2 separate regions of the Homo sapiens genome follow, and region 1 is linked to region 2. Evidence: fine-mapped expression QTL. A gene starts in region 2. The other region holds a variant in brackets. All regions are shown on one strand. Distances are between the middles of the regions. Region 1 overlaps LMO1 (LIM domain only 1). Region 2 holds the start of LMO1 (LIM domain only 1).

Evidence for each region.
Region 1: its variant is fine-mapped to the expression of LMO1 in left ventricle (GTEx, PIP 0.97).

Annotation. Positions count from the first base shown.
Region 1 is chr11:8,232,666-8,235,563 of GRCh38, reverse strand. The region is part of intron 1 of LMO1 (LIM domain only 1); the gene reads left to right. LOC105376536 (a long non-coding RNA gene) reads right to left here. Exons shown (of 4, transcript XR_007062582.1): 4 at 2,545-2,627. Among named protein-coding and RNA genes, the nearest start is that of LMO1, 30 kb to the left of the region's middle. The variant C/T (reference allele first, on the strand shown) is at 1,287.
Region 2 is chr11:8,262,548-8,265,445 of GRCh38, reverse strand. It overlaps LMO1 (LIM domain only 1), which reads left to right and starts at 1,568. Exons shown (of 4, transcript NM_002315.3): 1 at 1,568-2,108. The coding sequence starts at 2,084. RefSeq lists a silencer at 2,357-2,446.

The DNA of each region.
Region 1 (2,898 bases), 30 kb after region 2:
AAAAGATATTTTTGAAGAAATTGGTAAAATCTGAATGAGGTCTATAGATTAGATAATAATGTTATGTCAATGATAATTTTCTGATTTCAATTATTATACTGTGGTTATGTAAGAGAATGTCCTTGTTTTCAGCAAAGCATTTGCAAACCGAAAGTATTAGGGGGTATAGAGGCTTCCTGTTTGAAACCAACTCTCAAATGATTTAGGGAAAAAATTATAGGTAAGTAGGTAGAAGTAGGTAGAAAGATGGAGGTTAAATCAAATGTGGTAAAATGTTATATGTAGGGAATCTGGGTGAAGGGCTTACAGGAATTTTTTCTACTATTCTTGCAAGTGTTCTGAAAGTTTGAAATTATGTCAAGAGACAAAAAGTTAAAAGAAAAAGAAAGCAAGTGCCCGAGCAGGGATGGTATCCTGGGGTGACTGTTAATACTATCAGTTCCTGTTCACTGTGCCCTGGGCACCAGACTCTGTGCTATGGCCTCATGTGCAGAAGAACCTCATTCTATCCTCACCACATTCTGAGCGGAAAGACCACTGTGGCTCCCAGTACACACATGCCAGTCAGAAAGGTGGGGGGATTTAATCCAGGCCCCCCAGCTCCTTGGAGCAGTTCCGACTTGAAACTAGGCTCCCTGATTTCAAGGTCTGAACTCTTAGCCTCAGTCTCACTCTTGACTCTGACCTTTTTGGGAGAGTGGGGATGGGCAGGACAAAGGCGTTTCTTCCTGGAGTAGTAGCAGAGTGAAGGCCCCGGGACACAAGCTAACAAGATCCATTTGCGGGAGGGAGAGGAGCTGTGTTCCAGGATCCTGCAGGGGGCAGAGCCAGCAGTGCCAAGCAGGAGACACTGGCTTGTGGGAGGGGCTGCAGATGCCCAGTGGAGTTGCCAGGAGGTGGCCACAGTGGCTTCCAGCAGGGGAGCCACGGGGAAGAGCCTGGAGTGACCTGGAGCTGGGTGAGGTAGACGTTCTGGGCTGGAAGAGTGGCCTTGGAGGAGCTCACTGGGGTAAGCATCCCCCAGGCTGCCATCCAAACCAGGGGCACTGGTAGTACTGGAGCCTGTGGGCTTGGCAGTTTGGGAAAGTCCACGTGCTGGAGCTGAGGGGCAGCTGGGCTGGGACAGGTGGGCAGGAGTTGCTGGGGACTTGGGTCTGGCCTAGTGGACTGCTCTGGGGTCCATGTGAAGATGAGGGCATTTCTCCTCCGGGCTGGAGGGAGAGAGTGGGAGGGGCGGGATGACCTCTGGCAGTGCGTCCCCGTCACCTGGACTGTCTGGCTTTCCC[C/T]CAGATTAAAGAGTGGAGGGTGAGTGTCTGGCAGCCAGATGAGTCAGACTGGGAGGCTTCTCTCCCAGCCTGGCTGCCTCCTTCCACCAGCAGCCCTGCCTCCACCCCCTGCTAGAGGTAGGGGTTGGAGTTCAGCCTGTTTCCCCTCCAATGTTGTTCCCCCCACATCCTGAGACTTAGGGGTGACCCTGGGTTGAGTGGACTGGTTTATTCTGCTGGGCCCAGCGCATGCATCTGAGTGTGTGCCCAGGCGTGCGTGTCGGCGCAAACATCATCCATTGTGAAATATCAGTGTTTTCATGGGTGAGTAGTAATTACTGGGTAATGCTTTAAAACCTTTCCTGAAGGAGCGCAAAGCCATTTTTTTCTAAAGTCAGGAGTACATTAAAAGGATTACCATGTAGATTTGATTTTTAGATAACACTAAAATGGATCCCAAATGGACTTCAGCAAAGGGATGCTATCTCCTTAATGGAAAGTGCATGGCCCGAGGCTCAGGTCCCAGAGCCAGGCTGGGGAAGGAGGGAGGGAAGAGGTGTCTGCAGGGGGGCAGGCTGGCAGATTGGGTGGGGGGCTAGGTGGGAATGGGGAAGGCAGAGCAGGAGGGAGGGCCTGGACCCTGTGGGGAGCTTATCCCTCCATCTGGGGAGCAGGAGACTACAGAGCCCCTCCTGAAAGCCCCTCCACCTTTCCAGGAGTGTTTTCAAGTCTCCTGGACCAGCCCGGTGAGAGCAGACACAGCATGGATGCCCTATGAGGAAGGAAGGCTGGCTCCACTGTTTTGTTTGTTTGACCCCCAGAGCTCTTCCACTCTCCTGTGAGAAGCAAGGGATTGCTTCCGTTTTTCTTATGGGCAGATGAAGGAAGTTAGGCCCAGAGAGACCAGGGGGATATGCTCTGGACCCCATAGCCACAGGACTGCAGACCTGGAGTCTGGTCCCAGGCCCCTCCCATGGGGCTGCCCTGGCTCAGGCTTCCCCCAGGATGCCAGCCTTTCTCGTGGGAGGTCTCTAGACCCAAGGGTCTCTAGATGCTCTGGGGCCTTCTCAGCCAGGCTGACCCTGGTGTTCCATGTCTTGGTGGACATGGGACACTTTGGCAGAAGCTGTGTGGCTTCTATAAGAGTTCTCCAGAGCCAGGAATCAGTTCAGCACCCCAGAAGAGGGAGGGGTGTCCAGGTCTTAAGGTAACCTGCCTGTGCAGAGGCCAGCCTGGGCACGGGCAGTGGGGAGGGGGACCTGCGGCGGCTGGCAGCTTCACCCCTCATGGCTTCCACAGGGTCCTCTAGGTGCCAGATGCCTCCAGTGAAGAGATTGTCGACCAGTGCTGGAGTTTACAACCCTGCGGGAGCCAGGACAAACATGCTGGGGTCTGAGCTCGGAAGACCAGCCTGTCCAAGAGCCAGGGTAGATGGAAGAGAGAGTGGGACAGCTGCTTCACGTGCTGGGGCCTCTCACTGTCTCCCTTCATTTTGGGCTATAATTTAGTGGGCTAGGGTCTCCCCTGAGTACGGAGGTTCCAGCCATTCACCCATGTTCTGGTAATAGCCCAAATATAGAGCCCTGGGAGGGGCTCAGGACCACTGGGAAGGGAGCCAGGCCTGCTGCAAGCC
Region 2 (2,898 bases):
GCCTAGCAGAGAGGAATATGGCTGCAGCCCGCTGCTCCCCATCCCTGTCAAGCACTGGGGCCTCCCAGGGCTTAAAGGGTAAGACCTAGCCTCCAGGTCTCCTTCAAACCAGATAATCTCCCCCCATCCCCCTGCATTGTCTGGAGTGCCACAGTTTACAAAGCACATTAACATGCATTAGCTCATCTGACCCCCACAGCAACCATAGATACAGGAAGAGTAGGTCTCCCACCTCACAGCCAAGGAAACTGAGGCCCAGATAGAGAAAGAGACTTGCTAAGGTCCACTGTTGGTAATTGGCAGAGATGAGATAGAATCCCAACTGGTGGCCCTTCAGCCCGTTTCTCTTTCCCTGGGTCTAGTCCTCAGAAGTGATTGCCAGGACCAAGCCTCCAACACATCTGTCTGGAGCCCTCCTTGGGCTGAAGAAAAATCATTATTTCTATCCCACCTTGGAACTCTGTACTGTCTAGGCAAAGAAAAAAGACTTGGGATTTAAAAGTAGGTGGCCTTCCGGCCAGGCGCAGCAGCTCACGCCTGTAATCCCATCACTGTGGGAGGCTGAGGTGGGTGGATCACGAGGTCAGGAGTTCGAGACCAGCCTGGCCAATATGGTAAAACCCCGTCTCTACTAAAAAATACAAAAATTAGCTGGGCGTGGTGGTGTGTGCCTGTAATCCCAGCTACTCGGAAGGCTGAGGCAGAAGATTCGCTGGAACCTGGGAGCCGGAGCTTGCAGTGAGCCGAGATCACACCACTGCACTCCAGCCTGGGCAACAGAGCAAGACTCCATCTTAAAAAAGAAAAAACAGAAAGAAAGAAAAAGGAATGAAAAGAAAAAAAGTAGGTGGGTAGGTGGCCTTCCTAGGGTAGGCAGCCAGAACATCAGCCCCAGGATTCTGGGGAGAAGCAGGGTCCAGGAGAAGAGATGGGCACTGTCTCTTTTCCTGCCTTATGAGTTACAGAGCAAGAATCGTCAACTCCATAATAGCAGCAGGAATCTTTGTTTTGTTCAGTGCTGTATCCCTAGTGCCTTAGAACTGTGCTTGGCACATAATACATGCTCAGTAAATATTTGTAGAATGAGAAAAGCTTTCAAGGCCATGCCTGTGCTTGCTTCGAGAGAAGTTGAGATAAGCTCTCCCGCTCCATGGAGTCAGGATGCTTTTGGGGGTGCTGCTGGGGTCAGGAGTAGTGCTGTAAGACTCGGTAGGATCGTTTGTGCCCTGAAGAGGGTTAACTTTGCCAAACAATCCGGGAAGCAACACGAAACCCCGGGCAGAACTGGTAGGAAGGAAAAGGATGTGATCAGAGAAATATTGCTCTGAAGAAGAGACAAAAATCAAGGCTGAGGGTCTGGGAGTGACAGATGGGATGCGTCCTCCAGACAATCATTGAAGACCACGACCCTGGGATCGGAGCAAAGACGCTCACCGAGCTAGGACCTAGAAGCCTCCAGGTGGCGCTGCGGAGCCGGACAGCCGTGCGTCTCCACTCCCCATTAACCCGGGAGGGTGGAGGCCTCAGGAAATGTGTGCATTTATGCAGTAGCAGGAGTGCAAACCTCATACATTGAGGGAGAAAGGCAGCGGGAGACGGCCACGAGATTCCCCCATCTCTTTGAATATAATTTTAGATTGAGATTCAGATTAAATCCGAGGGGAAAACACTTTATGAGGCTGAAAGCTGTGTCGTTGCCAGAGACAGGGTTATGAGCTATCAAATGCAATTACATTAAGACAGATTATACTGGGCAAATTGAGCCATTTAGAAGGTGAGAATCAAAGAAACGGCTCTGATCCTCTTTTCCCCCTTCTCTCTCCCTCTCCCTCTCTCTCTAAATTGCAGTTCGTAGTTCCTTCCAATTCTGAGGCACAAAAGTAGGTGAGACTGCTTTTGTATCTGCGAAGTGCTTCACTCCTGAATGTAATTCTAGCTGAGTGCAATCTAGGTTAAGAGCCGGACAAGCGGGTAATTAGAGCCCGCTAGCTGCCCGAAGACCGGCCGCCCCTCCAAAGCGCGCCCCGAGTCGGCGCCCTTCTCCCGGCCGAGCCTAGCTGCGGCTGGACACGGAGCGCCCGAGATGATGGTGCTGGACAAGGAGGACGGTAGGTGGCGGGCCGGGGTCTCGACGCCCCTCACCCCCTCGCCCCCTGCCGCGGCGCGCAGGCACACACACGCGGGGACACGGGCGCACACCTGCTGGGCTGTGCGGGGATTGCGGGGCGGGCGGCGCGCTGGGGGCCGGGGCTGGGGCGGGGGGAAGTACCGGGGGACAGCCGGGCGGAACTTGCGGGGGGAGGAGGTCGAGCCCCGGGCTGCACGCGCCCGGGGCCGCACGCCCCCCGGGTCCCGGCCGCGAGCCGAGGAGCTGTGCACTGGCCGTGTGCTGCGCCGCGGGGCCGCGCGGAGGCTGGGGCTCCCTTGCGATCTCCGCGCCGCGGAGGTTCGCTCTGAGCATTTCGTGTCTGAGGCTGCTGCTCTCACCGCAGCCATCACCCTCGCGCCAGCCGCCGCGTAACCCGAGAGGCGCTGAGCGCCGAGCAAATCAGCGGCTTCGGGGAGAATCGGGCTCCAGAGCTCGGGGCAAGCGGGAGCGCGGGAGGACGGCGCGAGCGCCAGGGTGCCCGGCAGGCGAGGGGAAGGCGGGTTGGACCCTCCGGGGGACATCTGCATGAGCGTGACTCGGTGAGAAAGAGAGCCGCCTCTTGTGCCGGCCCGCTAGCTCCCTGTCTCTCTGAGCGCGGAGGCGGGAGTTTGGCCCAGAGGAAGAAAGTGTCCCGCCGCCGGCCGGTAGCACTTGTGCGGGAGCGGCCTGCGAGAGTGGCACGGACCTTCCGTGGTCGAGCCTCAGTGCGCCCTAGAAAACTGCAGGGCACGGGAAAGGTCGGAACAGAG